Linked DNA regions of Homo sapiens: all the other regions are linked to region 1. Evidence: fine-mapped expression QTL. A gene starts in region 1. Each other region holds a variant in brackets. All regions are shown on one strand. Distances are between the middles of the regions. Region 1 holds the start of TSTD1 (thiosulfate sulfurtransferase like domain containing 1). Region 2 holds the start of NECTIN4-AS1 (NECTIN4 antisense RNA 1). Region 3 overlaps F11R (F11 receptor).

Evidence for each region. PIP is the estimated chance that this variant, and not a neighbour inherited with it, causes the effect.
Region 2: its variant is fine-mapped to the expression of TSTD1 in cerebellar hemisphere (GTEx, PIP above 0.99). The same link has a PIP of 0.9 or more in cerebellum.
Region 3: its variant is fine-mapped to the expression of TSTD1 in whole blood (INTERVAL, PIP 0.99).

The regions. Positions count from the first base shown.
Region 1 is chr1:161,034,379-161,042,725 of GRCh38, forward strand. It overlaps TSTD1 (thiosulfate sulfurtransferase like domain containing 1), which reads right to left and starts at 4,586. Exons shown (of 4, transcript NM_001113207.2): 1 at 4,502-4,586; 2 at 4,173-4,295; 3 at 3,535-3,697; 4 at 3,253-3,448. The coding sequence starts at 4,511. The coding sequence ends at 3,397. It overlaps USF1 (upstream transcription factor 1), which reads right to left. Exons shown (of 11, transcript NM_007122.5): 4 at 8,177-8,292; 5 at 7,738-7,839; 6 at 7,273-7,468; 7 at 6,946-7,033; 8 at 6,436-6,494; 9 at 6,198-6,292; 10 at 5,824-5,952; 11 at 4,873-5,631. The coding sequence ends at 5,542. It also overlaps the pseudogene GLRX5P2. RefSeq lists enhancers at 775-1,281, 1,282-1,787, 4,515-4,564, 7,379-7,538.
Region 2 is chr1:161,079,362-161,087,361 of GRCh38, forward strand. NECTIN4 (nectin cell adhesion molecule 4) reads right to left here. Exons shown (of 9, transcript NM_030916.3): 2 at 229-588. NECTIN4-AS1 (NECTIN4 antisense RNA 1) reads left to right here and starts at 4,465. Exons shown (of 4, transcript NR_183641.1): 1 at 4,465-4,717; 2 at 5,291-5,451; 3 at 5,576-5,667; 4 at 7,542-8,000. The variant T/C (reference allele first, on the strand shown) is at 4,622.
Region 3 is chr1:161,012,320-161,020,492 of GRCh38, forward strand. All of the region lies in intron 1 of F11R (F11 receptor), which reads right to left. Among named protein-coding and RNA genes, the nearest start is that of F11R, 4.7 kb to the right of the region's middle. RefSeq lists enhancers at 1,165-1,314, 1,725-1,944, 3,586-4,183, 8,074-8,173. The variant A/C (reference allele first, on the strand shown) is at 4,801.

The DNA.
Region 1 (8,347 bases):
GGCGGAGGTTGTGGTGAGCCAAGATCGCACCCTTGCACTCCAGCCTGGGCAACAAGAGTGAAACTCTGTCTCATAAATAAATAAATAAATAAATAAATAAATAAATAAATAAATAAAATAAAGACTATTCTAGTCGAGTGCGGTGGCTCACGCCTGTAATCCCAGCACTTTGAGAGGCTGAGGTGGGCGGATTACCTGAGGGTGGGAGTTTGAGACTGGGCGGATTACCTGAGGGTGGGAGTTTGAGACGAGCCTGACCAACATGGAGAAATCCCATCTCTACTAAAAATACAAAATTAGCCAGGCATGGTGGCACATGTCTGTAATCCCAGCTACTCGGGAGGCTGAGGCAGGACAATCACTTGAACCCCGGAGGCAGAGGTTGCAGTGAGCTGAGATCGCCCCATTGCACTCCAGCCTGGGCAACAAGAGCGAAACTGTGTCTCAAAAACAAAAAAGACTATTCCAACTGGCCCACTATCCTCAATGGATACCTCAATGGCGAGTTTGTGGGGGGCTGTGACATTCTTATGCATATGTACTAGAATGGGTACCTGGTGAAAGAACTGAAAAAGCTGGGGCTCTGTTCTGCCCTTTTAGATTAAAAGAAAGACCAAGACTCCAAGTGAGGGCGCCTGGGCCTCAATGAACAGAGAGGGGGCCGTTCATGTCAGAGACTCCCTGCCAGAAAAGCCTTTCCAATTTTGGTTTTCATTACTGAGACAACAACTGCTTGCACTGATCATTTCAGTTCATGAGCAGTCTAGTGATTTTAGTTTGTCTGGTGTTTGGGTTAAGAATATTTTATTGTGAACTTAATTACAACCACTGCACTGTAATAATTAATGCTATATTATGATATTGTTGCAAACAAAATTCATTCTTATATTGTCATTTATTCTTTGCCCAATTCAGGAGTTAAAGTAGGGGCTTTGAAATCATTATTATTCATGACCCCTCTTGCAGACTGTGTCAGTCTGCAAGGACAGTATCTTCCTCCAAATTTTGTGTAGCTTCTTTTGTTATGGAAAATGGACTAAAAAGAAACTGTGATAACTGGGGCGTTGTTTTTTTAAAATAAACTGCCAACCACAGGGTAAAAAAAGAAAATGGTGCATTTTTTTTTTTTTTTTTGAGACAGAGTCTCGCTCTGTCGCCCAGGCTGGAGTACAGTCTCGTGACCTCGGCTCACTGCAACCTCTGCCTCCTGGGTTCAAGCAATTCTCATGCCTATGCCTCAGCCACCAGAGTAGCTGGGACTACAAGCGAGCACCACCAGGCCTAGCTAATTTTTGTATTTTTAGTAGAGACAGGGTTTCACCATGTTGACCAGGCTGATCTTGAACTCCTGGCCTCAAGAGATCCGCCCGCCTCGGCTTCCCAAAGTGCTAGGATTACAGGCATGAACCACCATACTGGGCCAAGAATTGTGCGTTTTATTGTTAAGTAAATTATGCCAATAATAATAATAAAATGCTATAACCAAATTATAATAAAGACCTGTGGAGGGGAAAACTCGTCTCTACTAAAAACACAAAATTAGCTGGGTATGGTGGCGCATATCTGTAATCCCAGCTACTCGGGAGGCTGAGGCAGGAGAATTGCTTGAACCCGGGAGGCAGAGGCTGCGGTGAGCTGAGATCACGCCATTGCACTCCAGCCTGGGCAACAAGAGCAAAACTCCGTCTCAAAAATAAATAAATGAATGAATGAATGTAGGAGGGCTGGGTATAGTAGAGAAGGCAGAAGGGAAGAAAAGGAGGTGAGAGACAGGCAAGGAATGCAGGAAATGCCTGAAAGAAGTTCTTCAGAGGCATGAAAAATCAGAAAACTGGATTCATTTCTGACTCAATCTTCTCTTCCACAGATTAAGGAATACATTTTCCAAAAATCAAACTTAAGAAGTAAAAACTCTGCCATGAAAATATTTAAAATGTATTATGCATCAAACTATACACTATACTAGAGGGAAGTCATATACCTACTGTGTAGTGCTGAATTTTGTTTCAGTAAGCATGTGTAATTTCATCTTTTTAACCAATTAAATTTTGGTTTTTTTGAGACTGAGTCTCTCTCTGTCACCCAGGCTGGAGTGCAGTGGCACTATCTCAGCTCACTGCAATATCTGCCTCCTGGGTTCAGGCAATTTTCCTGCCTCAGCCTCCCAAGTAGCTGGGACTACAGGTGTGCACCACCACACCTGGCTAATTTTTTTATTTTTGGTAGACATGGGGTTTCACCATGCTGGGCAGGCTGGTCTCAAACTCCTGACCTCAGGTGATCCGCTGCCTTGGCCTCCTAAAGTGCTGGGATTACAGGCATGAGCCACCGTGCCTGGCCAACCAATTAAATTTGTTAAATCCAGTATAAGAGATCAGTGTTGATAAAAACAGAAACCTGAGGCCGGGCGCAGTGGCTCACGCCTGTAATCCCAGCACTTTGGGAGGCCGAGGTGGGCGGATCATGAGGTCAGGAGATCGAGACCATCCTGGCTAACACGGTGAAACCCCGTCTCTACTAAAAAAAAATACAAAAAATTAGCTGGGCGTGGTGGCGGGCACCTGTAGTCCCAGCTACTCAGGAGCCTGAGGCAGGAGAATGGCGTGAACCCGGGAGACTGAGCTTGCAGTGAGCCGAGATCGTGCCACTGCACTCCAGCCTGGGTGACAGAGCAAGACTCTGTCTCAAAAAAAAAAAAAAAACGAAACCTGGTTTTGGTGGCACAGGAAAGGCTCCTCACACCTGTAATCTGTGCATGACACATCAGTAGGGATGAAGGGTTCCATCCATTCCCTCACCCAAAGGCCTGGGATTGCCCTTTCACCTCCTCAATCCATGGACAAAGCAGCCATAGACAATAACCAAAGTTCACAGCAGCACAGCCAGTTGGGGCCATAGTTTGCTGACCTCTGGTCTACAGCAGTGGTACCTGCTTCTGGCTGTATATGAGAATCACCCCAGGGGCCCATAAAGCCACTAATGCTCAGGCTCCACCCTCCATATTCTGAATTAAAAAATAAAACAAACAAAAAAACCTACTAGGTGATTCTGATGTGCATTCTGGGCTGAAAACAGCTATTCTAGAAGAACTGTACATTGTAGCCTCTCAGGAAACTGCTAGAATGTTGCATGTGGGGAGTGCTAGGGGGAAGCAGATGAATGCTGCGAAATGATGATCCAGGGCTGAATTGAGGTCTAGATAAAGATTAGAACTGTTTTCAGTCCACCTGACACATTAAGTGCTTCCAATACTTTGATTAAATGTTCTTTATTTGATGCTTTTGTGTGCACAACACTATAAGGAGTTGCCCAATTCACCAAGTCAGCCCGTTCACACCCTTAGTTAAGGTGGCCATTAAGGGGCCAGGGGGTGGCAATCAGTAAGCTGCCTCCTGCCTAACTCTCTTTCTCCAACCATTCTCTATAGGCTCCAGCGTAGTTGCGAGCCCTGTGGAGACAAAGAAGCGTGAGAGACTGACAGGAATGACAGGCAGTCCCCATCACCTCCCAGCTAGCAGCCACACCTCCCCGTACCCAGTGTATCCAAGACTCCGGGCCAGCTGCGTGGCCTGGAGGCCCCGCTTGCCCATCTGACAGAAGAAAACGAGATGCTCATCTTCCAGCTTTGGCTTCTCAGCAGAATATAAAGCCTGGAAGGCAGCTGGCTCCATCTGCAGAGCACTCTCCAACTCGGACACTGGAGGAGTGGAGAGGGTAGAAGGGAAAGCCAGCAATTTGGCACTCAGGTTCGGAAGCTGGGCCTGGAAGGGCTGGGTCCTGGGGGCCCCCAAACAACATATGATAACCATCCCCTACCCCCACCCCAATTTCAAGGAACAGAAACCGACAACTTTTGAATGCAAGCCACTCCCTAAGCTGTGAGGAGGCGGGGCGGGATGCCCCCTCAGGCGTCCAGATTTGGGGAGGTCAAGAGAAGCTGGTCTGCCCCTCTCCTCTCCGCCTGCTGTCTTCTCAAACTGGATGGGCCAGTTCCGATGCCAAGATCCGCCCCCCATCAGTCCTTCCTACGGAAGCTGAGGGCTGGCTCCCGGGAATGCAGGACCCCCATAATCAGTGCCTTCCCCATTCCATCCTAAATGAGGTCCCATTGGCAAAGAACCTCCTGAACGGTCTCTATTCCACCACCTGGGCGTCCCCTCTCCACCCTATACCCGGGATGTTGAGCGCCCCTGGGATGGTCCCAGCTGCCGCCTCCTCGCGAGAGCGCACGTCGAAGAGCCGGGCCCGTCCGGAGGCTAGGAGTGAACGGAGTTCAGGAAGCGAGACCGTGGGCGCTGAGGAAGGGGCGCGACAGCCTTCAGGAAGAGGGGGCCTAGGAGTCACGGCCGCCATGGCATCCCCTCACCTGGCAGCGCCCCTCCCGGTAGGGTGTGCACGAAGACCCCTCAGCCACGCCCCTTCGCTCCGCCACCCCACTCCCTGCCACGCCTCAACCCAGAGGACCAAGAGAACCGCGGCCCCAGGAATCCCCCGCAGGTACCTCCAGCCATGGTGCGCGTAGCAACCGCGAGTCTCCGGAGTGCGGCCCTGGCCCGCCCTCTCGGCGCCTGCAACATCTCCCGTTCCCTCCCAGAGCTGAGACCGGATCCGGAAGCAAGGGCACCGCCTCCCGCGCCGCCCCCGCAGCACCTGTTCGCGGCGCCTCTAGCACCAACCCACCGCAGAAGCCCTTAACATTCTCTAGCTTGGGCCAAAAACGACACACCGGTCTGGCCCAGGAACCAGGACTCCGGGTAATAAATGCAGGAGCAGCACCCCACCCTGAACTTGGCACAGCCCTTACTGGTCGAAGAGCAATGTGCCCCTCCCTTCCAGCCCGTGGCCCACAAAAGGAAGAAAAACAGACAACTGTGGCTTTGAACAATTTTATCTTAAAAAAAAAAAAAAAAAAAAAAAAAAAAGAAAAGAAAAAAAAAAAACGACCCCCACAAGGGGGAAGGCCCCAAGTGGGCCCCTGCCTGTTGTTCTCTCTGGCTCCAGAGATGTCTGCATAGGCCTCAGCTTCTCACTGGCCAATCTCCTCTTCATGGGCACCAGCCACTGCTAAACATCCTTCCCTCACTTCTTGTGTAAGCTTGCTCCCCTGAGCCACAGGTTGCACATCTAAACCTCAGCTCCAGGGAAAGGAAGAACCAATGGAAGTGCCAGAGTCCTGGGGCAAGCCAGAGCATCACCTGTCAGCAAACCTCTGCTGGGCACTCTAAGCAAGCACAGGACAAGCCCCAGAGTTTAGTGTGTCCAGTATCCAGCATGGAGACAGCACATGCATTGTGCGAGAGGAGCACAAGGGCCCAGGGGCTGCATGGTGGGGGTGGGCAAGGCTGTCAGTGCACGTCCACATTGTGTGTTTCACACCACTGCAGGCCGCCATATCACAGGGCCTCAGTTCAAGGACACACCTTCTGAACTTCCCCCTGTCCCATGCCAGAAGTGGGGCAGTGAAGGAAAGGGGCACGGGATTAGGCTGTTGCTCCTGGGCTATCTGCAGTTCTTGGGCCCAAAGCCCCTGAATCCCCATAGTTAGTTGCTGTCATTCTTGATGACGACCTCTAATCCGTGGTGCCGCAACTGAGCTCGAAGCAGCAGATTCTTGTTTTTAAGATCTTCCACCTGACATGGGAAGGAGGCAGTAAAGGGAATGGGTAGTAAAGCTGGCACTTCCAAGCCCCTGAATGTATTCAGACATCCACTGGTGAGGGGGAAAAGATGAAGCCTTCTCCATGGAGAACAAAGTAGAGGGTGTCAAACTGGGTCAGTGGCTAGCAGAACTGAGAAGGGCTGCACTGGGGGTAGGAGTCTGACCTGTTGTCGAAGCACGTCATTGTCCAGCTGCAGTTGGTCAAGTCCCTGCAGTTCTTCAGACAAGCGGTGGTTACTCTGCCGAAGCTCCTGGATATAATCACAAGCTTTGGATAGAATCCCACCTTTACTCTGCAAGATAAGGTCAACAAAATGAGAACTAGGATTTCAGATACCCAGCTTGCTTTCCAAAAGTAGGTTCACACTTTGGACCTCATTTTCATCTAAGGAAGGTGGTATAATATCTCCCAGGGATACAGGAACCTCAGGGAGAGATAAGACTACTGTCATGTGTGCCCCTCTCTCTACCATTTCTGGAAACAATACCAGGAGGCAGAATTCAGGCATCCTGCCCACTACCAGGGTCTTTCCATGACCTGGCCAGACTTGGTGCTCTCCATAGAGCAGTCTGGGATTATCTTGGAGAGCTGCACGATCCAGTTGTTGATCTTGTCTCGGCGGCGACGCTCCACTGTGGGGCAAAGTGGAGGACAAGGTGACTCAGTGAAAACTCGCCACAAGTCCCAGGGTAAAATTACCTAATCCCTCCTCCCCTCAGACATCACTGCTGAGATCACACCAGACAGCTTCTAGCTCCACCCAGATCATACCTACCTTCATTATGCTGAGCCCTGCGTTTCTCATCCCGAGTCGTCCGGGGAGCTTCTGACTTCCTGACAACAGAGCCCAGGGTGGCCAGAGTAAGAAGACAAAATACATGATTGAAGTTTGGGGTTAAGGAATTATACAAGATTTAGCAGGTATTAGGACCACTTATGGTAGCTAGGTGTGGTGTCTCACACCTGTAATCCCAGCACTTTGGGAGGCCGAGGCAGGCGGATCACTTGAGGTCAGGAGTTCGAGACCAGCCTGGCCAACATGGTGAAACCCTGTCTCTACTAAAGATACAAAAATTAGCCAGGGGTGGTGGTACATGTCTGTAGTTCCAGCTACTCAGGAGGCTGAGGCATGAGAAACGCTTGAACCCTGGAAGCAGAGGTTGCAGTGAGCTGAGATCATGCCACTGCACTCCAGCCTGGGTGACAGAGCAAGACTCTGTCTCAAAAAAAAAAAAAAAAAAAAAAAACCACTTACGGAATCTGAGAAGAAACAAGGGTCACTCACGGGGAATAAGGGTGAGTCCTAGGGGCAATTGAGCGCTGGCTTCCTCCCTGCAGTACTTCTTGTGGTGACATCATCACAAAGAATTGACCTGTGAAGATGCAGGGTAGGTTCTGTCAGGACATGGGTAGGAACCTCACCAAGCCCTGAGGTGAAGACCCTGGTCCCCTCCTCTAAAAAGAACATGCTAATAGAAGAGCAGCCCCAGACTCACTGCCTGTCCAGGTCTTAATGATCACTAAGAGTCATGAGTGAAGGCTCACTGCCTACCAGTCATGTCCCACAGCCTATTCTAGCCCTTTCAGCCAGCATCCTCATGCAATATCTCACCAGTGCCAGGAGGGGTCGCCTGCCCCAGCAGTGCCTCTGAGCCCTGGGTAGTAACAACAGCAGCTGTACTCCCCGATGTGGTACCCCCTGCCCCATCTCCCACTGCCGTGCTGGGGAAGTAAGTATAGTGCGTCTCAGCAGCTGTCCCCTCCGTGTCAACTGCATCATCACTGGTGAAAGCACCCTGGATCACCGCCTGGGAAGGGGAGCAAGAAAACTGATTCTGGTAACAGTCAAAAACTTCTTCCCACTACACCACTCTGCAGCTTCTATCCGTTGGGGTGGTAGGTAGGGTGGAGAGAGAGAGAGAGAGAGAGAGAAACATCCAGAAAAGGAGAGCCTAGTGCTTTGGGACAAGGCAGCCTTAGATGCCTCACTGTTCCTAGCTTCACCCCCATCCTACTGATTCCCTTCTTCATCTTACTTCTCAGAACTCTAGTGACCTCCCCAGCCCATACCCTGTACCTGGGTCATGGATTGAGTGGCAGGGTAGCCACTGATGGCGCCAGTTCCCTCAGTTTGGCCATCCAGCTGCCCCTCAGACACCTGGATCACCCTGTACATCACCTAGAAGTGTAGAGGAAGGCAGAGGGAGTGAAGAGAGAAGAAAAGATTAAGTGTTGGGAATCCTAGGGCCCCTCATAAAGCTTCCCTTGGATAGGGCCCCAAAACAAAGTCCTTCAGAGACATGGATTCAGCCATTCTCCCTTCTTTCCCCACACAGAGGTTTCAGCATACATCTAACCTCACACCAGTCTCTACTCCAGTATTAGCACCTCCCTCCCCTGCAACAGTCCACTCTTTCAACTCATCCTCCAAGCCAGGTCTCCCCAAGACATGTTCAATTACCTCCCTCAATCCCAACCCCAGATAACACCTGCAGCCACCTGGCCCCCTCCCTTACCTGGCCCCCATTCTCAGTTCGGAAGACGTACTTGACGTTGGGGTCAGGGAAGGTGGCAGCTGACTGGATGCTGGCAATAGCCACACTGGTTGGGTCTTCCCCAGTAGCCACTGCACCTGAATTAAAAGAACAAAGGAAAAGTCTGTGAGTTAACTGCCTTTCTACCCCCGT
Region 2 (8,000 bases), 45 kb after region 1:
GAAGGAAGAACTTCCTAATAAATGGATTCTTCCCCAGCTTTTGGGGTTACTTGGAGAGAATTTCTGGATTGGGTGCGAGGATAGCTAGCTGGATGAAGCTCCCTCACCTGAACATGACCCCACTTTTTATTCCTGTTCTACCTCTGCCCCATCCATCTCTGCAGTCCCCATCTCTGCTTCCCCCTGCATCCACAGCGGCTCAGACCGTACCCAGAGATCCCCGCTTACCCAGCACTCGGAGCCGCAGCCGCGCCTGGAAGCTGCCGGCGGGGAAGGTGCTGACCCGGCACTCGTACTCGCCCTCATCCGCCTGCACTGCGTTGCGCAGGAGCACTGAGCCGTCCAGGGGGTTGCGTGGGGGCGGCGGCTGCTCCACGCGGCCCTCGTAAGCCGGGCTCACATGAAGCCCGTATTTGGAGTGCAGTAGCGCTAGTTCCTGGGCGCCTTCGCCCGCGTCCACCCGAGCCCATGCCACTTGCCCCACTTGCTCGCCGGAGTCCCCTCGGTAGAAGCAGGGCAGTTTTGCGTCCTGGCCCAGCACCACAGTTACCACGTCTGAGGTCTCCAGCTCACCCGCGGGGCACCGGCCTGCAGGGGGCAGAGAGGGACAGCCACCATTAGGGGTGCTGCCAGAGCTGGGGGAGCACAGTCATAATGATAATGACAGCAAAGGTGACCGGAACTCCTGGAGCATTTGGGCTTGCAAAGCACATTCAGTTCATTACCTTATTAAATCTACAAAACGCCTTCCCAAGAGGTAGGCGTTATTATCACCGTTTAACAGATGAGGAAACTGAGACCCAGAGAGAGGAAGTGGCTTGCCTAAGGCCACACAGACGATTTATGGAAGGCTCACACCCTCTTGCAGCCTAGGATTGTATCCTGAGCAGTTGCAAGGTGGGAGGCTGTAACAGAACAGGAGACCCAGCCTCTGCCCTCAGGGAGCTCACAGTCATCAGGGAAAATAGAATTTATGCACAAAGAAACAGGGAAAGCCATGAACAAACTTTCAGAAGAGGTTCAACCCACCAACCGGGAAAAAGTGGATAGTTTCAGAAAGTGTGGCCGGGAGCCACGGCAAGAATCCAAAACTGTTGGTGTCTGGAATGGGGCACATAGGGTAGGAAGGGTCTATTCAGTAGGCCCTTTGGAACATTCTTTTCATGGCTTGAAGATGAGAGACCTGGATTCCTATAGCGCAGGAAATGTTCCATGTGGGAGGAAAGGCATGAACCAAGGCTCAGAGGCAGGAATGAGCAAGCCACTAAAGACAGAAAGGGCCCAGGTCAGAGGCCCAGAGAGATGAGATCAGGGCAGACACACAACAACCGGGTCAGAATTGTAAGCTGGAATCGGAGGACAAGGGACAAAGGGCTAGTACAAAGGGCTAGTATTTAGCATATTAATGAAGCCCTCAGGGATTCTGGAATCAGAGCTATCCATCATGTCACCTTATCTGCAAATAAGGATCCACTCCCTGCTCTCATGGGACTTGAGTTCTGCTCAGGAGCAAGAGATACATATGGAGACACATATGGAAACATGTGATGATGGTTTCTGATTTAGTGCTCAGGGGTGTGTTACAGGCCAACTGTGGGATGGGGCAATCACTATGGGACTGAATCATTTGGGAGGGCCCCATGCATGAGTTGGGTAGGATTAGGAGGGAGAGAGGCCTAGAAAGGCATTCTAAATCAGGAACCACGGTGAGCAAACACCAAGGAGATGGAGAAGGTGGCTTGTTTAGGAAGCAAAGAGGAGAGGACCCAGCCTAAGACAGGGTGTGTGTGTTGAGCAGGAGTGGAAAATATGGTTGGGACAGGGTGGGGCCAAATCACCGGGGAACTTCCATACCAGCAAAGGAATTCATACTTGGTCAAGAGGAAATGGGGAGTCACTAAAGGTTCCTTAGCCAGGGAGTGCCATGAGCAAGTGGTGAGGGGCAGTCACTGAAGGCTGCAGCTGCAGCCTGGGTGCAGTAGTGCTAGGGTGGAGAGGAGGGGACAGTTCTGGGGGGAGATTTGACAGGGATTTGGTCACTGACCAGAAAGAGAGATGAAGGAGAGGAAAGACTCAAAGGCAGCTCCTAAATTTCTAGGATGAGTAACTTATGAGGGAGACAGGGCCTGAGGATGTTCATTTTTGGGAAGAAATAAATTTGGAGTCATGGAATCAAAAGTGAAATATGGGGATTGGGGCCTGGGGGCAGAGCAAAGGAACATGCTGGGATGGCAGGAGCTCCTTGCCTTGGAACGCGTGCCCCAGCAACCCCCAACAGTGTGTTGTCCCTGCCTCTGCCCAGCAAGCCACACACCTTGTTGTTCCTCACCTCTGCTCACACCGTACCCGCTGCCTGGAATGCCCTCCTCCCTATATCTGGTAGCACCTACTCATCATTTAAGACTCCGCTTAGACATCATTTCCAGCAGGAGTCCTCCCTCCTCCCACCCCCACCCCAGGCAGCATTAGGTGCCCTTCCTCTGTGCTCCCCAGCACCCTGCTTTCATTCCCATCACAGCACTTTATCCCTATTTTCTGGGCCTCACATCACCATTGGAACCATTGTTTCTGATTTAGTGCTCAGTGGTATGTGGGTTCCGTCAACATTTATTGACCAAGTGAATGAATGAACAGGTGAATTAATAAATGAGAGAGACAGAAGGAAAGTGTAGAATGAGGAGGAACAGGCTGGGCACAGTGGCTCACACCCTAATCCCAGCACTTTGGGAAGCTGAGGCAGGCAGATCACCTGAGGTCAGGAGTTTGAGACCAGCCTGGCCAAAATGGTGAAACCCTGTCTCTACTAAAAATAAAAAAATTAGATGGGCGTGGTGGCGGGCGCCTGTAGTCCCAGCTACTCGGGAGGCTGAGGTAGGAGAACTGGTGAACCCAGGAGGTGGAGGTTGCAGTGAGCTAAGATCATGCCACTGACCTCCAGCTTGGGCAACAAAGCAAGACACCATCCCCCCGCCACCAAAAAAAATGAGGAGGAACAAGCATTGGGCTGGCCAGGGAGGAACATTACATGGTAACCTTGGGGTGGAGGCAGGATAGGCTGGGCTAGCTAATTGGGTTCACTGCCAAAGGGAGCACCTCCAGACTGGACAGAGGAAAAAAATAGGGATGGAAGGAGGCAGGCATGGAGGGAGGAAATGAAGCCCCACCAGAATGGATCAGAGAGTTTTAGTGAGGCAGCACATAGAGCACAGGAAGGGGTTCCTGTGGCCCTGCTACCAGAAGGAGAGGGAAGAAGGATGCTGAGAGGGCCCAGATGGGACAGGATAGACCTGCAGGGCCAGATACCAGAGCCCTGACCTGCCTAAGCTAATGTTGGTCCCACCCAGCCCAGCCTGGGAGTCCAGCTAACCACCCGCACCCCTCCCAGGCTTTTTCTCCTCCTGGCACTGGAAAGAACAGGGCTGCCAAGGAAGGGCTGTGAGTGAGCTTGGGTAGGGGATCTCCAGCACAACATATCCTCTGCTTCAAACGCTGGTGTCTGTGAAGGTCACAGGGATCCCAAGACCTGCCCCATTAGGACACTCAAACCTTTCTAAAGACTATTTCTGAGACAATATCAGATGGCATATTTTCCATCCCTATTCCTATACTAGCCAACCACCTGCTGCCTCCCCACCACTAATCACCTATATTTCCCTTGGAAAATACCTTCTTAGGGTACAGCAGGCATTAGATACCCAGCGCATGCCTGAATGTCAATCCTCCATGTTCTCACCTGTGAGTCCACGATCCCCACCCCTAGGGGACACACTGAAGCTTCACAGACCGAGGAACCCAGTAAAACAGGAAATTCCCTTCTGGATATCTCCCACAGATCCTCATTGTTCTAAATCCACTACTTAGTAGGAACATCTCAGCCTGAGGCAACACCCTCCTCCAGCTGCATACCCCCCTACCACCCTAGGGTACAAGAGAAGAGAAAATAGAATTTGGGCCCTAGAATCCCTGTCCTTGTCTAAACAGACCCAGAAGTCCAGGTTTCCAGGCCAGGGCAGGCCAGGACTGCCTCCTCCTTCTCTCCTCCACCCAGTGTCAGCCTGGCGTCAGCATGATGATGTCATCAGACCAAAGGAGACACATTGCCTGCCTGGTGAGGTCACCTTGAGGGCATGTGGTGGCCAGGCCAGGCCAAGCCCAGGGACCCTTCTGTTGCAAATTGTTTACTGAGGCTGGTGGACTCCGGCTGGTTAGACACTCCTCCCTCTGACCCTCCCACCCCTCCTCCCTGGAGTACCAGGACGCTGGTCAGGAGCCTTGGTGACTCAGAAGCTGCCTCACAGCAGCAAGCCTAGCCACAGCCACCACCACCTTGCGCAAGGGAGAGAACAGGCCCAACTGGCCAGACGGGATCCCTGCCCTTGGCCTCCCCCACCCTGGCCAGGCCCCCACGGGCCTCTTTGGAGCCCAGCCCTTTGTGTACCCCGCCCGCTCCCAGACAGGCCCTCCATTCCAGGTTTGGGCTGGCTGGCTCTTCCCCACCCTATGCCTGGGTCTCAACTTTCCTTCCTATGTGAGCCTGGCCTCTGATCTCAGGAGGGGAAACTGAGGCTGGCACTTGCTGACACCCAGCCATCAAGAGCATCTTTAAGGAAGTATCTTTTCT[T/C]TATGAGGGGCCTTTCTCCATCAGTATCCCCTGCTGGGACTTACAGATGTGAATGTAGGGGATCGTAGAGGTGGGTCTGTGAGAAGGAGGAAGGGAGTAAGTATGAGTTTTTTGTGTATGGGGAGCTGTGGCTGAGGGCCTGGCCAATCTTAGTGCTGGTTCAAACGCATGTGAGGCTATCTTCTTGCATAAACTGGTGGGTGTTTGGCACATATATGTGTTCATGTCTTATCTTAGGGGCATATACGTACTTACTTGTCTGTGTCCAGAGGGAAGAGCTGTGTATCAGTATGTGTGAATGTGTGTGCACACATGATTCCGTGTGCATGTCACACCCTCTGTATGCATGGAGTGCATTCTTGTCTCGCGGAACTCTGCACACATAGTAAATATTTTGCTGTCGGTTTATCTTGGCTTCCACATGTCTCTCTGTCTCAGCTGCCCTTGGTCTGTGGTATGTGGCTGTGAGCCTTTGCCTCTGCATCCTGCCTGGAATGTCACCCCCAGCATCCTTCCCCACCTTACCCCAAGACTTGAAGACATATTAATCTCAGGCTCAAGGTGGAAGTACCCAGAGATGAGGTCACTGTCCCTCCAGGTGATGGGAACTTGCCATTAAGGACTCCCCAGCAGAACAAAACAAATGTTCCCTCTCCCCTTGCTCCTCAGGTTCCTACTAAAAGGACTGCCAACCTTCTCACCACTACCCCCAGCCACTCCCCTGGGCCCCTCAGCAGCTCTGGCCCCCCAAGGAGGCCTCTCCCTGGGAATCTCTGTCAGGGCTCTGCTGCTGCCACCACCAGAAAAACCAGCTCTGGCTCCAGGCCTGGGTAAGGGTTGTCTGGTGTGGGTTTGGGGGGGTGAGGGGAATCCTGCCTGGGGCTAGGGGGAGGGGTCCAGGCTGTCTAGGGTCTCATGCTCCTTTGTTAACTCCTGCCTCCCCTTACCTGACAGCAACAATCTCCACCGAGAGCTGGAGTATGTGGGTGAGTCTGGGGTGAGAAAGGACCTAGGAGGGACGCACCGAAGCTCACCATCCAGGACAGGTGACACAAACAACCCAGCAAACCCCTTTCCATCCACTCTTTGCCCCATAACCTTGGCCTTGGAGTGCTAAGGAACTTTAAAAACCAGAAGATTCCCTCTCCGCCTTCATCCACCTCCCTCACTTACCCCCCATTGTACTAAGCCCCCCAGCTTAGTGAGAGCTTCCCAGCCTGGGCAAAACGCCCACCCACAGATTAGTGTCTGGGGAGGGGGGCCACACAATCACAAAGGGAGATGAGAACAATGGGGAGGACAGGCCTTGAGGCAGCCCCACTCTGGCCCAGACACAGCTCCCAGCACAGATAAGTCCCCTAAACCCCCCGGAGCCAGAGTCTGAGCCTGGCTGAGTCACCACAACAGCCACACTGTGGGTGGGAGAACCAGGATTCAGCTTCTCCCAAACTCCTGAGATCCTAACCCCTGCTCCACACTGCCCCTCCACCCACCATGGCCAGCTCTGCCCCATCCCAAATCACAGCCTCAACTCCAGCTCTCAGGACACACCAGATTTAGAGGGAAGGGGGTGGGGGTGGCCAGAAAACTATGAGAAAATCTCCTGAGGCCAGAGGCTGCCTGTTCCAGTGAAAGAGTGACCTCAGCCGCCTTCTCCACGGCCTTCCTTTAGGAGGCATGGCAGATGTCTCCCCAGTTCTGAACTTCGCCTCCTCTTTTTTTTTTTTTTTTTTTGACACAGAGTCTCACTCTGTCACCCAGGCTAGAGTGTAGTGGCGCGATCATGGCTCACTGCAACTTCAGTCTCCTTGGATTCAGGCAATCCTCCCAAGTAGCTGGGACCACAGGTATACTACCATGCCTGGCTAACTTTTGTATTTTTTGTAGAGACGGGATTTTGCCGTGTTGCCCAGGCTGGTCTCAAACTCCTGGCCTCAAGGGATTCACCTGCCTTGGCCTCCCAAAGTGCTGGGATTATAGGCGTGAGCCACCACGCCTGGCCCCCTCCTCATTTAGATTCTCTTCCCAAATTAAGACCCTAGGCTTCTCTACTCCCTTCCCTTCTGACTTCGTTCCCCACATCACCTCCATCCCTTCTCTCTGCCTAGACTTCGGTCAGAGCAAGGGCAAGTTTTTGGAGGCTAGAACATCCAATCATTCTCTCCTCACTGGGCCCCAAAGTAGCTAATCCCCATTCACTTTGCCTAGAGGACCCCCAGATCCTGAGGCTCTGGTCTGGCTGATGGAATCATGAACTCTAACCTCCTCATCTCTGTAGCTAGGCTCTCCTTGGCCCGGCCTCCTTAAACACTAGGGTGGGAACAAGGTCACTGGGGTCACAGGGCTTCCCTGGGATTCTCCCAGTTCTCACCACCTCCCTTGCTGGCTTCCCTGGGTTTGGGTAGGTCCTACAGGAAAGGGCCTGCCCCCCTCTGTAAACAGGAGTAGAAAAGTAAGGATGGGCCCCTCCCTTTCAAGGAAATTAACCTCAGACAGAAAGCTGATCCTAACCCCCAGAAGGCAGACCTCAGAATGCAGAGCACCACTTGCCCTTTGGTCCTGCAGGGCTCCTGAACCCGACAAAGAGCTAGGGACTAGGATCCTAATGGGGGGAGGGGTGTCTCGTGGATTTGGGTCCCTCAGCCCCAGGGCAAGAGATGGGGGAGGGAGAAGGGAGGAGACTTCACCCGGAAACTCAACCCATTAAGGAGAGACAAAGAGCTGTGGTGCTGAGGCGCCTCCCAAGCCTGGGCTCCTTTCCCTGTCAGGGGTGGGGCAGGGCCCTGGGGCTCAGAGCTCTAATGGCCCAGGATTTGGGTGGGGGGTGAATTTGCAGTAGGGCCAGGAAGGCCTGGGGAAAGGTACTCTGGTACCCTCTGAGAGATGCGACCAGAACGCTTTCCTCCTCCTATCTCCACAGCCAGACCCAGTGACCCTTCCAACACCCCAGCACCCCACTTCAGCCAGGCCTGGACCATCACAGAGTCATCGTATTTCAGAGCTGGAAGGTCAATAGAGATCATCTGGTCCTAGCTCTCGGTCTACTGAAGTCTGGTTTCATCGCTGCCCAAGGTTACCAAATAGATTAATAGCAGAAACGGGATCTGGACCAAGACTCCTGACTTCCCAGTCCAAGGATTTTTTCAGAGACATGAAACATTCCAGGTTCCTGGGAGCCATTAAGGAGAGTCTACACACAGAAGAGCCAGAATGGGGGTGGTAGTGGAGGTAGGACCATCTGATCCTCAGGCTAGGAGCCTCCAGCCCCCAGAGCAACCTCAGCTCTGTGCAGGTTGTAGCTGCTGCAGCAGCAGCAGAGTGGCCTCCTACCAGGTGCCAGCTTCCTGGGGCAATCTGGAGCCAGGCTTCCTCCCTTACT
Region 3 (8,173 bases), 22 kb before region 1:
CTGGCCAGGTGCAGTGCAGCAGCTTAGGCTTATAATCGCAGCATTTTGGAAGGCCAAGATGGGAGAATCACTTGAGCCCAGGAGTTCAAGACCAGCCTGGGCAACATAGAAAGATCCCATCTCTATGCCTCAGGGATATCAATAACAAAACATAAAAGAAGAAATACAACATAAAAAAGAATATAACAAATTTTAAAAAGAGAGAGGCTCTGATCTCTATAAAAATAAAAGAAAAAAAGAATTTTCCTTGAGTTGCTTTTGTGTCGTTTGAATTAATTAATTTTATTTATTTATTTATTTATTTATTTATTTATTTATTTTGAGACAGAGTTTTTGCTCTCGTCACCCAGGGTGGAAAGCAATGGCATGATCTCAGCTCACTGGAATCTCTGCCTTCTGGGTTCAAGCAATTCTCCTGCCTCAGCCTCCCAAGTAGCTAGAATTATAGGCACCCACCACCATGCCCGGCTAATTTTTGTATTTTTGGTAGAAACAGGGTTTCACCATGTTGGCCAGGCTGGTCTTGAACTCCTGACCTCAGGTGATCCACCCGCCTCAGCCTCCCAAAGTGCTGGGATTATAGGCGTAAGCCACTGCACCCGGCCGATTTATTTATTTTTAACTTTAATTTTAGGCTCAGGGGTACATATGCAGGTTTGTTATATAGATGAATTACATGTCGTCGGGGTTTGGTGTAAAGATTATTTCATTACCCTGCTAATAAGCAAAGTACCCAAAAGGTAGTTTTTCTATCCTCACCCTCCTCCCATCCTCTAAACTCAAGTAGGCCCTGGTGTCTGTTGTTCATTTAGGGAAAAAAAAAAAAAAGAAGAAAGAGGAGGAGGGGGAAAAGGAGGGAAAACAGTCAACCAGTCTCTCTCTGGTTTTCTCTAAGAATTCATCCAAACTTCCCTCTGGGCATATGAGACTCACAAGACCCCCCAGTTGCCAGGGAGCTGGAGCCCTGCAATAGGAAGGATGAGTCAGGGCCTCCTCACCCCACCAGCTACAGCATACCCAGTTTAACTTCATGTTTTCCCCCTAATCTCTAGCACAGTGCTCAGAACATAGTAAACACCAATGTTTGTTGGATTAACAAGTGAATTTCACACTGCAATACAATTAGAACCTGGACCTAGAGCTTCCACTCTGGTTTTCCCCTTCCTCCCCACCACTCACCCTGTAGAGATTGAAGTAACTCCCATAAGGGTTGGCCTCCTCGTAAAGATCAAGAGGCTCCATGGGCCAGGGAAGTTCCACAGGGAAGGGCCTTTCCGGGGTTTGGGGTAGAACAGTTTAGAAATGTGTGAGCAAGAGGAAGGCTCTGTGAGGCCAACAACAGGCTGGGCTATGTCTAAATAGCCATCCTTGGCTGCACTTTCAGTGATGTCGATCAGCTGGCTCGGGTCCTCTGAGGATGGCAGAAAGTGGTAATGGCAGGGTAAGACAGGCTCGCTTTCACTCCCTGGCTCCCTCCCGCCCTCTCTGCAGAATTTCCGGTTCTACCTGCTCAGCTCCCCCGCCACCCCATCTTCCCAGTGCAAGGGAAGGTCGAGCCTTCCAGCGCAGGACTTACTTCAGGGGCCCAGCACCCACTTCCTGCCAGCCAGCTGCTTCCTCCTGTTCCGCCCCTACATTGTGAAACAAATGACGCAGCCGGACTTTAGACAGAAACCCTGCTTATCAGGGAGTCCAGGCAGATGAACTCTGGGTTCTCAATGCCAGGAAAACCCTAGTGTGTATCCACTCTCACAGTATGTGTTCACTCATACTGCTTTCCACAACCGTCACACAATAGTGAAACCTCATCCTCAATTATGTTGGACGCAAGGTCATCCAGGTCTTTCCTGAATCTCTGAAACAGAAACTGGTTTGAGTTTAGAGATCTCCAGGGTCTCTAGTCAAACCTAACAGATGTGATAAACAAGTCTCATTATTATCACATAAAATGTGCATGGCATTTAAATCTATTTTTGGGTGTGGTGGAAACGTGTGTTGCCCATTTATGTGTCCACAGAACAAGTGCAAATTGAACTCAGCTGACTTGGAGGGGGGTGGGATGTATCCTAACAGCCAAGGCCACAATCCCTAGAAACCAATATGGGCCAGGTGTAGTGACTCATACCTGTCATTCAGCATTTTGAAAGGCCAAGGCAAAAGGATCCCTTAAAGCCAAGAATTCAAGACCAGCCTGTACAACAGATGAGACCCTGTCTGTACTAAAAAAATAAAAAATTAGCCAGGTATGGCTCACCACTCACACTTGCCTATAGCCTCAGCTATTCAGGAGGCTAAGACTGGAGGATTGCTTGAACCCAGGAGGTCAAGGCTGCAGTGAGGCCAGGCACGGTGGCTCATGCCTGTAATCCCAGCACTTTGGGAGGCCAAGGCAGGCGGATCACTTGAAGTCAGGAATTCAAGACCAGCTTGGCCAACATGGTGAAACCCTATCTCTACTAAAAATACAAAAATTAGCCGGGCAGCTCACACCTGTAATCCCAGCACTTTGGGAGGCCAATGGGGGCAGATCACAAGGCCAGGAGATCAAGACCATCCTGGCTAACATGGTGAAATCCCATCTCTACTAAAAATACAAAAAAAAAAAAAAATTAGCAGGGAATGGTGGCGGGTGCCTGTAGTCCCAGCTACTTGGGAGGCTGAGGCAGGAGAATGGCGTGAACCCGGGAGGCAGAGCTTGCAGTGAGCCGAGATCACGCCACTGCACTCCAGCCTGGGTAACAGAGCAAGACTCCATCTCAAAAAAAAAAAATTAAATTAAAAAAATATGTACAAAAGGCTGGGCACAGTGGCTCATGCCTGTAATCCCAGCATTTTGGGAGGCCGAGGCAGGCAGATCACGAGGTCAGCAGATCGAGACCATCCTGGCTAACACGGTGAAACCCCGTCTCTACTAAAAAAAATACAAAAAATCAGCCGGAGTGGTGGCGGGCCCCTGTAGTCCCAGCTACTCGGGAGGCTGAGGCAGGAGAATGGCGTGAACCCGCGAGGCGGAGCTTGCAGTGAGCCGAGATTGCTCCAGTGCACTCCAGCCTGGGTGACAGAGCCAGACTCCATCTCAAAAAAAAAAATATATATATATATATATATACACACACACAAAAATTAGCCAAGAATGGTGGTGCACGCTTGTGTCCCAGCTACTCGGGAGGCTGAGGCAGGAGAATCACTTGAACCTGGGAGGCAGAGTCTGCAGTGAGACAAGATCACGCCACTGGACTCCTCCCTGGGCAACACAGCAAGACTTTGTCTCAAAAAAAAAAAAAAAGGCTGCAGTGAGCTATGATCATGCCATTGTACTCCAGCCTGGGCAACAGAGTGAGACCCTGTTTCAAAAACAACAACAACAACAACAAAACTCCATGATATATATATATAAGCAAGATGTAGAATATATGTAGTATGCCTCTTTTTGTGTCAGAAAGGGGAGAAAAAACAAGTATTATTTATATATACTTGTATCTGTAAAATGAAACACTGAAGAGACATTAGAAACTATTGGGGTTTGGGGTGAACAGGAGCAACATGGGAATGAGATACCCCACCCCTTTGATATCATTTTAATTATAAAACCATGTCAATTAACCTATTCTAATTAAATTTTTTTAAAAAAAATCACAGTAGCTCTATCTTGAATCGGAACTGGGCTGGAGACTCCACAAGACATGATCACAAAGGAACTGAAGAGCAACATGGTGAGGTAAAAGTGGTCTGGAGTGGCCAGGTGCAGGGGTTCACGCCTGTAATCCCAGCACTTTGGAAAGCCTAGGCAAGAGGATTACTTGAAGTCAGGAGTTCGAGACCAGCCTGGCCAACATGGTGAAAACCCGTCTCTACTAAAAATACAAAAAATTAGGGGCCGGGCGCGGTGGCTCACGCCTGTAATCCCAGCACTTTTGGAGGCCGTGGCGGGCAGATCATGAGGTCAGGAGATCAAGACCATCCTGGCTAACACAGTGAAACCTCGTCTCAACTAAAAATAGAAAAAATTAGCCAGGCATGGTGGCGGGCGCCTGTAGTCCCAGCTACTCAGGAGGCTGAGGCAGGAGAATGGCATGAACCCGGGAGGTGGAGTTTGCAGTGAGCCGAGATCGTGCCACTGTACTCCAGCCTGGCGACAGAGAGAGACTCTGTCTCAAAAACAAATAAATAAATAAATAATACAAAAAATTAGCCGGGCGTGGTGGCGCGTGCCTGTAGTCCCAGCTGCTGGGGAGGCTAAGGCAGGAGAATCGCTTGAAGCCGGGAGGTGGAGGTTGCAGTGAGCCAAGATCATGCTACTGCATTCCAGCCTGGGTAACAGAATGAGACTCCGTCTCAAAAAAAAAAAAAGTGATCTGGAGCCAGAAGGCAAAGACTAAAGGACACTGAAATTCCACTGCCACTCGTTTCCTAGTTCCAGGTAGAACTAGGAAGTGCCAGTCACCAGTTTCTAGTTTGGAGGGAACAATTCACTCCTGGGAGTAGAGGGAGAGGAAAGGAGGAGTGACTCACCAGTGTGGGGAAAAGCAAGAGAGATCAGATTGTTACTGTGTCTGTGTAGAAAGAAGTAGACATAGGAGACTCCATTTTGTTCTGTACTAAGAAAAATTCTTCTGCCTTGGGATGCTGTTAATCTATGGCCTTACCCCCAACCCCTTGCTCTCTGAAACATGTGCTGTGTCAAACTCAGGGTTAAATGGATTAAGGGTTGTGCAAGATGTGCTTTGTTAAACAAATGCTTGAAGGCAGCATGCTCCTTAAGAGTCATCACCACTCCCTAATCTCAAGTACCCAGGGACA[A/C]AAACACTGCGGAAGGCCGCAGGGACCTCTGCCTAGGAAAGCCAGGTATTGTCCAAGGTTTCTCCCCATGTGATAGTCTGAAATATGGCCTCGTGGGAAGGGAAAGACCTGACTGTCCCCCAGCCCAACACCTGTAAAGGGTCTGTGCTGAGGAGGATTAGTATAAGAGGAAGGCATGCCTCTTGCAGTTGAGACAAGAGAAAGGCATCTGTCTCCTGCCCGTCCCTGGGCAATGGAATGTCTCGGTATAAAACCAAGACATTGTACGTTCCATCTACTGAGATAGGGAAAAACCGCCTTAAGGCTGGAGGTGGGACATGCGGGCAGCAATATTGCTTTGTAAAGCATTGAGATGTTTATGTGTATGCATATCTAAAAGCACAGCACTTGATTCTTTACCTTGTCTATGATGCAAAGACCTTTGTTCACGTGTTTGTCTACTGACCCTCTCCCCACAATTGTCTTGTGACCCTGACACATCCCCCTCTCAGAGAAACACCCACGAATGATCAATAAATACTAAGGGAACTCAGAGGCTGGCGGGATCCTCCATGTGCTGAACGCTGGTTCCCCGGGTCTCCTTATTTCTTTCTCTATAGTTTGTCTCTGTGTCTTTTTCTTTTCCAAGTCTCGTTCCACCTTACGAGAAACACCCACAGGTGTGGAGGGGCAACCCACACCTTCACACCAGTCTACGGTTTTGAGGTATGCCTGCCCCTGAAAGGGCAAAGCTAGAAGGGCTTGAGTCAGAAACATCAATAGTAAACACTGGGACTCAGAGAATGACCCAGAAGCAGGGCAGCAGTTCTGCCCTGCCCACGCGGAACTCTTCAGTGATGATACCACACTCAAGGAAGGGCAGGGGAGCAAATGCCAGCATTCCAACCCAGGTTTCCCTCTCTCCCCTGTGGTTACACTGTAAGTTGACCTATCCACACTCACCTCTACTGTGTCTCTCCCTACCTGGTAGACAGCTGAACCTTTTCTAAGGGACAGGTTCCCTAGGGAAAGGGAGGCTAGTACTCTGGGTCATCAGTTTTACTTTTCCCAAGTCCAGCTCTCCCAGTGTCTACCCTCTGGATCTCTGCCCCACAGGGTCAGGGTTTCCCCTCCATTAGGTTCCCCAAGCTGGGGCCAGGCCTTTGCCTGACTTGTCAGTCCTATCTTGCCTTTTCTACTTCCTCCCTGACAGCAGAGCCCACAATGAAGAACAGGGAGAACATATGGGCAACCTATCCACGCCTCTCAGGGACAGTGGACAAGCTAGACACCCAAGAAAAAGCTCCTGCTTTTTGATTTCTGACTCTAGCCATTTGGGATCTCCCTGCTTCCTTTTTTACCTACTCAGCTAGGGACAGCATTCTGGCATTCTTCCATCCTCACAAAATCCACAGGGGATAACAGCTGCCCAAAAATAATCCCTTCATGTATATGTAATGTAACTATTATGCTGGTTGATCCTCCTGACAAAGGTGGGACAAGTATTACTGCTATTTTACAGATGAAAAGACTGAGCTACTGCCTAAGATCACAAACAAGGCAGAGAGAAAGCCAAGCTAGAATGCAGGTATGGTGGCCCAGCTCCCATTTCCATCCTCATTTGCACTAACCAAATCACTCCCCTCCCCCAACCCAACCCCAGATCTAGCCTGATTTAAAAGTTACAAGGTCAGTTCCTCCATCCCCTGGACAAGTCACTTCCCAGGACCCACTGTCCTAACAGGCTAATGCGACATCATCTCAGGTTCCCTCTGCACTACTGTGGCTTGGTTCCCTGAAGACACCTCCAAGCTCAAAATGGTGTTATCATGACCTTCCAGTGCCAGTATATGATTATTTTAGGATTATCATAAATAATATAGGAAATTAGAGGGAGAAAAAAGAAAGGAAGCAGTGGCAAAGGATAGGGAGTAAGCAGCTCCAGGAAGCTTTTAAGCCTGACAAATACTGTCACAGACAAACACTGTTACAAATACAGTCACTCACACAGAAGAAACTTCTGGGCTTAGGGGAAAAATACTGGCACAGTACAAAGGTTGGAAAAACCTTTAGTACCAGAACCACATAACCAAAAATTGACTATGGGTGTCACTAGCAGTTCTAAAATACAGGCAGAAGTAAAATAGGCAAGGGGTAGGGAAAAAAGGGAAATTAAAGAAAAGGGAACTCAAAGAGTAGAAAAAAAGGAAGACATGGCCAGCCGCGGTGGCTCACACCTGTAATCCCAGCACGTTGGGAGGCCGAGGCGGGTGGATCACCTGAGAGCAGGAATTCAAGACCAGCCCGACCAACATGGTGAAACCCCATCTCTACTAAAAACAAAAAATTAGCCGGGCGTGATGGTGCATGCCTGTAATTCCAGCTACTCGGGAGGCTGAGGCAGGAGAATCGCTTAAACCCGGAAGGCGGAGGTTGCGGTGGGCCAAGATGGCACCATTGCACTCGAGCCTGGGCAACAAGCGAAACTCTAACTCAAAAAAAAAAAAAAAAAAAGAGGGAGACATGAATGAAGAAGCTAGTGGGAAAGTAAGTTTAAAGGTAAGTAAGACAGTAGATTCTGAAGCAGTATCCCAAACAGTTCTTGTGCTATAGGGTGCCTGAGATGCTGGATCAAAGAATGGAAAAAGGAAAAGCAAGTCAAGAGGGTTTGGTTCCATTCCCAGGTTCCACCCCTAACTCTATTGTCATTGAAGTCATTTCCCCTTTTGGACTTGTTTCCTTATCAGTAAAATAGAAAGAGGATGATATATGCCTCTGGTCCAATCTCTCCCAAGGGTTTATGTTGTGATAAGGTAGAAATGAGCAGTCAATCCATCTAAGGGCAGGGAATCTACATACACCAAACTGATTGTAATCATTCATTTAACACTTTCTAAAACAAGAACCTTGGGGGTGGGGGGAGACTCATGTAGAACACATACTGACACAACTACTCACACAACGACACGCACACTCAAGAATCAGATAAACACACAGGTACTGCCACAGGTTGACTAACGCACAAACCAACCGACTAAACGCTCAGCCCCACACAAACACATCTAGAGACAGAGGCATGCCCTAGCAAGTGAGCCTCATTGTTCCTCAGGAAAGGGAGTTTACAAAGGAAACAAAAACTCTCATACACAGCCAGAGGGAGGGCAGAGCTCTGGCTCTGATGAGAATCCAGCCAACCAACAGATACACTCTCCCCCTGGGAAGAGTCACTCAATCAACAACACGTATTAAGGACTCCTGAGGTAGTTATTCCATAAAGGAACTTCGCTGGAACCTCTGCTGCGCTTAGAGAAATTTCAGGTTTCTATTGCATTTCCTCTTTAGACTGTGCACCCAGACATTTTCCCAGAGCAACCGCCGCAATTCAAAGATTCAG